Homo sapiens: one gene and its partners. The gene in region 2 interacts genetically with the main gene of each other region. Each region holds a gene or a part of one and is shown on either strand. Other genes may lie near its edges. The genes, in order: ARGLU1, UBA2 and CDC73.

Region 1 (3,656 bases), on a different chromosome or scaffold from region 2:
ACAATTCTCAACTGTTCTTCGGCCTGAAAGTTAAAAGTAAAAATTAATTATAGAAATGTATTAAAAATTATCATATGTACCCCTGCAACAGGTGTTATCTATTATGTATCTACAAAAAAATTTTTAATGCAAATGCAAAAAAGGGGGTAAAAACAAGGACTTCCTATGAATTACATGCCTTCAAAATATTTTAGTTATGAGGTGACAACTTACACACAATGGCATGTGTCATAAAATCTGACGAAGGTCACATAGTTTGGTAGAGAAAAAAGAATTAAGAAAATTAAAAGAGAACCCTTTATTAATTACATCTACATTTTCTGTCTTTCATTTTCAATGAAAATAAATGAACAAATTATGGAAAAGCATTTACACATTTTGGAAGTGGAAATTAATTTCCACAAATCACATGTTGAGATGACAGATTTTGTTCTATACCTATTTTTATCTCTAACTTCATTGTACCAGATTAATAGATTGTTAATTATAAACCGAGGTACAGATTTACTCAAAGAGCAGGTTATCTACCAATTGCCATATTTATAGTTGAAGGGCATACACACACACAAAAAAACAGAAACATAGGAAAAAATCTCCACTGGGGCTTTTTGTGTGGTCAAATCATGCTGAAAAAAAAGGGACTATATTATAGTATCAGTAGACAACCAAGAAACACGACAGACCCAATTACCTGAAGAAAAATATTACAAAACCTTCTGACCTGACTAACTATAAAGTGCTATCTAATTTCAAAAGGACACTGGTATAACTGATTCCACTCCTGCAGTGCCTTCAACTCCTTCCATGTCAAGCAACTTCTTTCCCGCATTCTTCCACAGATTTCCCCCTCTTTACCAAAGTCAGGCCCTTCTCATGCTTCCTAGAGATACCATACACACATCTTCAATTCTCAATTCTCAACCAAGCACAATTTTAATCCCTTCCCCAAGGGGACATTAGGCAATGCATGGAGATGATTCTGGCTGCCACAACTGGGAATGGCTCCTGGCATCTAGTGGGTGGAAGACTGGGACAATGCTACACATCCTATAATATGGAAGACAGCTCCCACAACAAAGAATGATCCAATCAGTGCCAAAATTGAGAAAGCCTGCTCTAACCCTTTTTAATATCAGTTATCATGATTTATCCTTTTTCCCCTCTATCTGACAGTGATCTTAAAACATTCGCTGCATCCTTTGAGCTGCCTACCTATTCCCATTCAAAGTCAAATTTTAGGTCATTGATTCCATCTCCATTATTCTACTAAAATTTTCTTCTGTATGGTCAAAATCTATCAAATTCAGTGATTTTTCTCTTTATTCAAATAAATTCTTCTGTTCACTTAAGTCTTTTAAAAACGTTCTCTCTTCTGATACATTCTCTAATGCCACACACTAATTACTTCTTTTGTCTCCATTGATATATATGTATTTTTTAAATAAAGTGTAAAGTGACTGGTTTACAGGCATTTATGGCAGAGGAAGATGGAAAAGGTAACAGGACTCCGGTATGCAATAAAAAATGTTGAGATTTTATCTTAAGTAGCAAAAAGGGAAGAACGCAAAGAAGTTTAGACAGCAATGTGACGTAGACTAAAAGATAGGTGTTGGAACAAATCAACCGCAGTCAAGTAAGGTTGGAGATAACAAAGATCAGAATTACAAGCAGTGAGAGAATCTGGCAGGTGAGCATGGTGGAAAATCCAACAGAGAGCTAAAATGTATCTTTAAGATACAGCTCTCTAAAACCTTTTTCCTATGCTACATTTAGACCTGGCTACTGGACACATCCACCTGGGAGACCTAGGACTTGCTTCAAAATTCAACATGTTTCAAGATTTAAATTCTTCCACTTTATCCTTAAAATAAATCTGCCCTTTACACTTTCCCTTCCGCCACTCAAATTCTATAGCTTTATTTCATCTCTTCCTTCTTCAGTCAAGTTTGTTACTTCTTGTTTTATATTCTCTGCCTAGAGTTTATTTTCATTTCTTTTGCCAGCTTCATCAGTTTAGGGCCACATATCTTTTGTACATCTAAAATGGTGCCCGTTTCCAGTGTGTCCTTCAATCCATCCTACACGATACTGCCAGACTCACCTTTCTTGACCACTGCTCACTCTTTCTTGTTCTCAAATTGCCAATGATATCCACTGTCCATGGCATACAGCTTAACTTCCTAAAGTATAATGTTTCTCTAAGACAAGATTTTCTATAACCTGGCTCCAGCTTTGTTTCTACTCCTCTTCTAAATTCTCCTTTCTATCTTGTTCCCCCGTCTTTTGCTCATGCCATTCTTTCCTTCTATGGAAATCCTACCTGTACATCAGAATCTATTTCAAATAGCCACTCTCTTCCTTAGGCTTTCACTGATATTACAACAAAAAGAACTGCCTGCTATCGGTCATCATTAATGAATTCATATGCCAATCACTTTATCCAGTTTTAATAAATCATCACAAATTTGGGGTAAGAGCTTAGTGTGTGCAACTGAATCAAGATGTAGTAAGGGTTCTTTGGATGTGTGTGTGTGCCTAAGAAACATTTTATCAATATAAATACTCAGATTCACTTTCTTCTAAGGTTCTAACTCAACCCTAGGAAAGCATCCTAGAGCCCTGGAGAGTGAGGGTACATAAAGAACATCACAACCTTAATCCATAAGAGAAATCTAATGAACATTACAAATATACCATTTTTTACCCTAGAAGACAGAAATTCAAAGTGTGACAGCACACTGCTGTGGTTTCAGTATGTCCCCCAAAGGTCGCTGTTAGAATTAACTGGCATTGTTAACAGTATTAAGATGTGGGGCATTTAAGCAGTGATTAGGCCATGAGGGGTTCATCCTCATGAATGGATTAATTCTGTTATTACCCGAGTGGGATGTGGGTTGGTTACCATGGGAATGGGCTCCTGATAAAAAGACGAGTCTGGCCACCACTTTTCTCTCTCTCTAGGGCCCTCTCTGTCTAGCTTGCTCGCCATGTGATGCCTTCCACCATGGGGAAACCTCATGGGATGCCTGTGCCATGTTCTTAGGCTTCCCGGCTTCCAGAACCCTGAGCCAAATATTTTTATAAATTACCCTGTTAGAGCAGCAAAAAATGGACTAACACACATATGCTATCATATAAAGAGCACTCTCACACTATCAAAATTACATCTTCGTAATACTTTATGCCAGCAAGTACATTTTCTGGAATTTACATTATGTACTTGTACAGCAATGTGCAAATTTTGCACCCATGCGAAACTGATATATTTACAGGGTTACATATTACAACACAGTTTATAGAAAGAAAAGAATGTGAAAAAAACCCAAATATCCACCAATATGGGGTACACTAAATAAATTACTGAAGATATATAAAGGAGAATATTGTATAGCCATTAAAAACAAGTAAGAGGAAAAAAGGAGGCCCCTATGTTCCGCAATGGAAAAATCTCCAAGTTACACTGTTAAATGAAAAAAAGAAAGTTCCTTGTGTACATGCTACTTTTGTGCAATAAAGGGAGAATTAAAATATTATGCATTTGTATCTGCCTGAATATGCTTTTACAGACATTCTGAAAAGATTTTAAAAACCCGTAACTGAGTACACTTTTGGAGACGGGGTTGGGAATTGGGGATTGGGTTGGGGGTAAGGTAAAG
Region 2 (3,656 bases):
GTCTGTGTCATCCTAATTAAAGATAACTAATTTTTTTTTTCCCAAAAACTCATACTGTTTGTTTTACTTCCAGCTGCCCGAAACCATGTTAATAGAATGTGCCTGGCAGCTGATGTTCCTCTTATTGAAAGTGGAACAGCTGGGTATCTTGGACAAGTAACTACTATCAAAAAGGTAAAGAAAAGTTTTATTTTTTTAACTTCCCAAATATTTATTTGAGACCTTGGAGCAGGAGGAAATAAACTTTGTATTTATATAAAATGAACAGGTGAACATCCAAAATGTAAGGACTTTTATGCTTATATAAAACTTAAAATGCGGGGCCAGGTGCAGTGGCTCATACCTGTAATCCCAGCACTTCGGGAGGCCGAGGTGGGCGGATCACCTGAGGTCAGGAGTTTGAGACCAGCCTGGCAAGCATGGTGAAACCCCATCTCTACTAAAAATACAAAAATTAGCTGGACATGGTGGCCGGCGCCTGTAATCCCAGCTACTTGGGAGGCTGAGCCAGGCGAATCACTTGAACCTGAGAGGCAGAGGTTGCAGTAAGCTGAGATTGCACCACTGCCCTCCAGCCTGGGCTACAGATCAAGCCTCTGTCTCAAAAAACAAACTTAAAATGCTATAAACGTGCTCAAAAGACTATGGGCAAGGAAATCTTTCAGCTCTGCCATTTTGTTTCATTTGACTTTTGTATTAAAATCCTTAGAGTGGTAAGCATGATATACCAGGCATCAAAAATTTCTTTGTGTCGGCTGCGTGCAGTGGCTCATGCCTGTAATCCCAGCACTTTGGGAGGCTGAGGTAGGCAGATGACTTGAGGTCAGGAGTTCGAGACCAGCCTCTCCAATGTAGTGAAACCACGTCTCTACAAAAAATACAAAAATTAGCTGGGTGTGGAGGCGTGTACCTGTAATCCCAGCTAGTTGGGAGACTGAAGCATGAGAATTGCTTGAACCTCGGAGGTGGAGGTTACAGTGAGCCAAGATGGCACCACACTCCAGCCTGGGCAACAGAGTGAGACTCCATCTCAAAAAAAAAAAGCCAGGCGTGATGGCTCATGCCTGTAATCCCAGCACTTTTTGGGAACCCGAAGCGAGCGGATCACCTGAGGTCAGGATTTTGAGACCAGCCTGTCCAACATGGTGAAACCCTGTCTCTACTAAAAATACAAAAATCAGCGGGCGTGGTGGTGTGCACCTGTAATCCCAGCTACTTGGGAGGCTGAGGCAGGAGAATCCCTTGAACCGGGGAAGCGGAGGTTGCGGTGAGCTGAGATCACGCCATTGCACTCCAGCCTGGGCAACGAGCGAAACTCTGTCTCAAAAAAAAAAAAACCAAAAAATTCTGTTGTCTAAGAGTCTGGGCTTATAATGTGGAAGGGAACTTTGAAAACTTTTTAGGGGTGTATTTGTGAAGTACTTCAAACATTTAAATACAACTAGAGAATAATAGAACAAAATACCTGTGTGCTCATACCTCAGTTTTGTTTTGGTTTATTTATTTATTTGTTTATTTTTTTGAGACAGAATTTCGCTCTTGTTGCCCAGGCTGCAGTGCAGTGGCGCGATCTCAGCTCGCCGCAACCTCCGTCTCCCTGGTTCAAGCGATTCTCCTGCCTCAGTCTCCCGAGTAGCTGGGATTACAGGCGTGCGCCACCACGCCTGGCTAATTTTGTATTTTTAGTAGAGACGGGGTTTCTCTATGTTGGTCAGGCTGGTCTTCAACTCCTGACCTCAGGTGATCCACCTGCCTCGGCCTCCCAAAGTGCTGGGATTATAGGTGTGAGCCGCCATGCCTGGCACATATCTCAGTTTTTAAAACCTCAACACGGCTTCATTTGCTATTCAGATATTTTTTCTTTCAGTTCTTTTAAGAAGTTAAATATTGTAGTTACATTTGAAGAGTCGTTTTCCATGTTTTGAAACTATAGAAAGAGAATTATAATGTACTTAACATTTGCTGGTTGCGTCTAATTTTTTTTGGCAGCTTATTCATGTTAGAAATTGTGTCTTTGTTTCTTTTAACTGTTAAATGTTATTCTTGGAACCTTATTGAATACCATTCTACAAAAGACTGTTGTGTATGTCAGTGCGTATTAAGTTGTTGAATAAGTGGAGGCCTTCAGTATCTGTTGACAGATCAAGACGGAAGTTCTCTGTCTGCATTGCAGTATGAGTCTCATGACTGCTTGCCATGTGGCTACCCTCAAGAAAGCATATTGGAAGGCTGAGGGCATCAGAAATGGTGTTTCAGAGAAAACTCTAAATCTGCTGCAATTTATATTAAAACAGTATTTGAGAGTTTTGATTCTTGAACAATTAGCCTGGCTAATTTTTGCATTTTTGGTAGAGATGAGGTTTTGCCATGTTAGCCAGGCTGGTCTCAAACTCCTGACCTCAGGTGATCCGCCTGCCTTGGCCTCCCAAAGTGCTGGGATTACAGGTATGAGCCACCACGCCCGGCCAGACATTGCTTTTTATATCCTTGTTACTGTGATTCTGACACACCACTGTGTATTAAGACTGAAGGTGGCTGGGCATGGTGGCTTACGCCTGTAATCCCAGCACTTTGGGAGGCCAAGGCGGGCGGATCACCTGAGGTAAGGAGTTCGAGACCAGCCTGGCCAACATGGTGAAACCCCATCTCTACTAAAAATACAAAATTTAGCTGGGTGTGGTGGCACGCACCTGTAATCCCAGCTACTTGGGAGGCTGAGGCAAAAGAATCACTTGAACCCGGGAGGCAGAGGTTGTGGTGAGCCTAGATCACGCCATTGCACTCCAACCTGGGCAACGAGCGAAATTCCGTCTCAGACAAAAAGAAAAAAAGAAGAGACTGAGGTTAGGAATATCTGAGATAATGAAAGATGATTCATTTGATAGTTTTGAAAAGTTGTCTCAGGTGTCATGTACTTCTTCCAAGGCATAAATTCCTTAAATTGTAATTTTAAACTTGAATGTGTATCAATAAAATGGGCTGGGCGCAGTGGCTCACGCCTGTAATCCCAGCACTTTTGGGAAGCCAAGGCGGGCGAATCACATGAAGTCAGGAGTTCAAGACCAAGCTGGCCAACATGGAAAAACCCCGTCTCTACTAAAAATATGAAAATTAGCTGGGAGTGGTGGGAGATGCCTGTAATCCCAGCTCTTTGGGAGCCTGAGGCAGGAGAATTGCTTGAACCTGGGAGGCGGAGATTGCAGCCAAGATTATGCCACTGTACTCCAGCCAGGGTGACAGAGCAAGACTCCGTCTCCCCACCGCCAAAAAGAAACGTATATCAATAAAATGAAGAGTATTTGGTTTAGTAACACCTAAGATTTTTCTGTGTAGGGAGATATATCTTGAAATTAATCTTGTAGTTTACTTAATTTCAGGAGATTATAAGGATATGGCTGTATTCCCCAGACCCACTTAGTTTTGCTCAAAAAAAAAAAAAAAACACATATAAGAAAATGGCTGCGAATAATATTTAGATAACATTTACAACTTTGAGAAATAATTTCTTGGAAAGCTGCTGTTTGTCTTTCCAGTAGTTTTTCTGTTTAGTGTGATCAAGGTAAACTCATATTTGACACTCAGGTGTAGTAATTTTTATTTGGGCTTGTAAGTCATGTTCACTGAACCAGGAGTCGGCGTCCTGGCACAGCCTTAGC
Region 3 (3,656 bases), on a different chromosome or scaffold from region 2:
CAAATTTTATCATGGGTTCTAAATAGAAACTGTCTTTGAAAAGTGTGTTGATGTATATTTACTTTGGTCATCAATAATGTTAACATTCTAATAATTCCTCAATAACTTTATATTTTGGATAAGTAAACTTGATTTTACTTATAAGAAGAAACATTCCAACTTCTGGAAAACCCAGTGTAAAAAATTCTTTCCACTTGTTCATTTGTTCCGGATCAGCTTGTAGAACCCAGCAAATTAGGCTAATGTAAGGTATTCTATGTTTAGATTTTTGGTTTGGAGAATTTCAATTTTCTGGTAAGAAAAAAATGAAGGCATATTTTATTGTAAGGGAATAATGTAATAAAAATAGGAATAGCTCTTTTATCATGGTTTAACACTTTTATTGAATTTAAGTGTCCTTTAACAAAATATTAAGCTGTTTATAATATAAAGTGCCTATAAATTTAGACACACAAATTACCTTATTTCTTTAACCGGGAGTAAAAGTTGAGTATATATCCGTGATACAGAGAACGCAACACATGGCACATTAGATGAATTTACCTTTGAAGTACTTGTTAGTTTTCAGGCATTAAGAAGTCAAGGCATTGAGAATATTAATATTAAAAATTTTCTTAAGAAAATTGCAACCAGGGGGCACTGCAATTAATTAGTGTCACAGTATCTTATAGAGTAGTAGACCAGCCCCTTAAACTTATGCCTCAAGACTGGTAGGATAATTCTCTCTCTCTCTCTCTCTCTCTCTCACACACACACACACACACACACACACACACACACACACACACACATATATATATTTAAAATTTATATATTTATTTATATATATAATTTAATTATAATATATATAATATACATATTATATATATAATATAATTTAAAATATATATATATTTAAAACACACACATAAATATATATATATATATTTAAAATTATAATTCTTCTCTGGTACCTAATAGATACTTTGAGTAATATAGAAAATGAGTAAGATGAGAATTTCAGATATCAAGCTTAAAACCAAGTAGGAAAGTTATATCACTTGTATTTTATGTTTGCAGTGTATTTGCAGAAATAATACAGTGTATACAAATCTCATCACTATGCTGTAAAATACTGCTTGTGTGTATTAGTTAGGGTCTCCAGCCATTGAAGCCTCCAGCATTTTCCCTACTTCCTTATTTTCCTTTTCCTTTAATTGTCCTTCCAAGAATTCATGGGGAGTAACATTTTTATTCTGCTTCCGTGCTGATGCTATGAGACCCAGTAGAATATAAGTGACCTCTGTCCAGCAAATTCCCTTTGCTTTGGCAGGCATCTTGGGCTTTCAACTGTTGTAAGTTACATCATAAAACTGAAAGATTATTTAATAGTGTGCTGCATTGCCAAAGATGATTTTGACAGTTTGAGGCATGTATCCCATGAAAGGGGAAATTTTTTAACTTAAGATTTAATTTTAGTCTCAGAGATTTTTTTTAATTTTTTATTTTATTATTACTATACTTTAAGTTTTAGGGAGATTTTGAGCAGGTTGAGAACTTTAAGCTGGCAGTTTTTAATAGTTGTAGGTCTTTGCTTGAATAGAAGGTAACCCTGGTTTAATGTTTTTTTGTATGTCTGCAGTCGTCATTAATTGCAGTGGTTATCAAAGTGTGGTCTGCAGACCTCAGGTCATTCCTAAGACCCTTTCACAGAGTTGCAAGGTGAAAACTATTTTCATAATAATACTGAGATGGCTATTCTCATGATTTATCTGCCCTTAAATAGGAACAGTAGCATACCCAGTGCCCTAGCATAGTAATTTATTCTCCTCCTTCTCTTCTTCTCTTCTTCCTTTTCTCTGTACTTCTACCTTCCTCCTTTCTCTTCTCCAACATGCCCATGCACTTGTTTCTTCATTTATACAATGAGGTTTCTAATACAGTGAGGTCATTGGATTGTTTTGAAGATTAAATGTGTTAACATCATAAGTAACGCATAAAGTCCTTAAAATGGCACTTGACACATAGTAAATGCTCAATAAATGCTACTAATGTTAACCATTATTGCTGATAATGTTGTTGTTTTGTTCCCACCGCTTTAGTTATTGGCTTTAACTGTTTATGGCAGTACTTCTTATAATTTCTCAATTCAATTAAGTATTTTATAAAATAATGAAATTTGAGGGCCTACAAAGAAGTTTGTTCTTTCTAGGAAAACTGGGTTGTTTGGTTGGGAAAAAAATGCTTTAAAAACTACTTATAAATTTAGGGTGAATGAAACAGTTGTAAAACAATTGCAAAAATTATAAAAGTCTAAATGGTTTCTATACTCAGATTACTTCCTAAGTAATCACAAGAACTCAGATAAGGCCCTGGGACCTCGTAAAATGGTTGATGAGTTCCTATAATGTAATATTTTTAGTTAAAGTAAAATATTTAAGATGTGTTTGAATTTTAAATGATTTTTTAAACAACTTTTTTGATTAATAGTTATCAACCACTATTCCCTATTACATTGGAAAAGTGGGCCACTACTCTAATTAACAGAAGGGAACAGAAAGGGCAAACAAGATTACATACGAGTATTGTCCATTGAATTATGTTTAAAAGACTTAGGTGTAAAAACCAGATACATGAGAAGTATAGCAATCATTAATACATTCTAATGGCAATATCATATTGAAAAGGTGGTAAGTACTGTATTTGCTTCATGGAAGGATTGATAAGACTCTTTCACATGAATGTTTATGGGACTGTTGCCTAAGGGATTTATAGTAGCTAAAGCTCAAGTTTGAAATAATCTCCGTCTGTCCCCTACCTCCCCCCACCCACTTTTCTACTTGTAGGGACCGCGTTGTAGCCGTTTTTGTGCAGGGTCCTGCATGGCAGTTCAAAGGTTGGCCATGGCTTTTGCCTGATGGATCACCAGTTGATATATTTGCTAAAAGTAAGATTCTCTTTGTATTTACTGTATCCAGTATAGAAATGTTCTCACTTTATTTAAGAGAAACAGTCATATAGTTCTGCGCATATGATGTGTATGTCAAAAGATTGCTGTTAAGTAACATATGTTAATGTTTAAGCATCTGTGACATATTTTTAAAAGCTTTGTATATTAATACTTTCTGTGTAGGTATATCTGAAAGTGAATATTGCCTATCCCACAACATTACTAATTATTTTTAGATCACTTAAAAATCATTGGCCAGACACAGTGGCTCACACCTGTAATCTCAGCACTTTGGGAAGCTGAGGCAGGTGGATCACCTTAGGTCGGGAGGTCGAGACCAGCCTAACCAACATGATGAAACCCTGTCTCTACTAAAAATACAAAATTAGCCGGGCATGGTGGTGCACACCTGTAATCCCAGCTACTCGGGAGACTGAGGCAGGAGAATCGCTTGAACCCGGGAGGCGGAGGTTGCAGTGAGCCGAGATCACTTCAGCCTGGGCAACAAGAGCGAAACTCCGTCTCAATAGGAAAAAAAAATTAATACTGTTGCATGTCCATAGATTTTGATTAAAATTGATGCCAGTTTTTTTTTTTTTTTTTAGACGGAGTCTGGCTCTGTCGCCCAGGCTGGATTGCAGTGGCGCGATCTCAGCTCACTGCAAGCTCCGCCTCCCGGGTTCACGCCATTCTCCTGCCTCAACCTCCTGAGTAGCTAGGACTACAG

The links.
Region 1: changes in UBA2 (region 2) and ARGLU1 together harm fitness less than expected from each alone (positive genetic interaction), as found in Homo sapiens cells (one large-scale study listed by BioGRID).
Region 3: changes in UBA2 (region 2) and CDC73 together harm fitness less than expected from each alone (positive genetic interaction), as found in Homo sapiens cells (one large-scale study listed by BioGRID).

The regions. Positions count from the first base shown.
Region 1 is NC_000013.11:106,544,138-106,547,793, forward strand, and holds part of ARGLU1 (arginine and glutamate-rich protein 1), read right to left. Parts: intron 24-3,656; coding exon 1-23. UniProt on the Homo sapiens protein: Dual function regulator of gene expression; regulator of transcription and modulator of alternative splicing. General coactivator of nuclear receptor-induced gene expression, including genes activated by the glucocorticoid receptor NR3C1.
Region 2 is NC_000019.10:34,434,795-34,438,450, forward strand, and holds part of UBA2 (SUMO-activating enzyme subunit 2), read left to right. Parts: intron 1-73; coding exon 74-174; intron 175-3,656. UniProt on the Homo sapiens protein: The heterodimer acts as an E1 ligase for SUMO1, SUMO2, SUMO3, and probably SUMO4. It mediates ATP-dependent activation of SUMO proteins followed by formation of a thioester bond between a SUMO protein and a conserved active site cysteine residue on UBA2/SAE2.
Region 3 is NC_000001.11:193,233,431-193,237,086, forward strand, and holds part of CDC73 (parafibromin), read left to right. Parts: intron 1-2,825; coding exon 2,826-2,926; intron 2,927-3,656.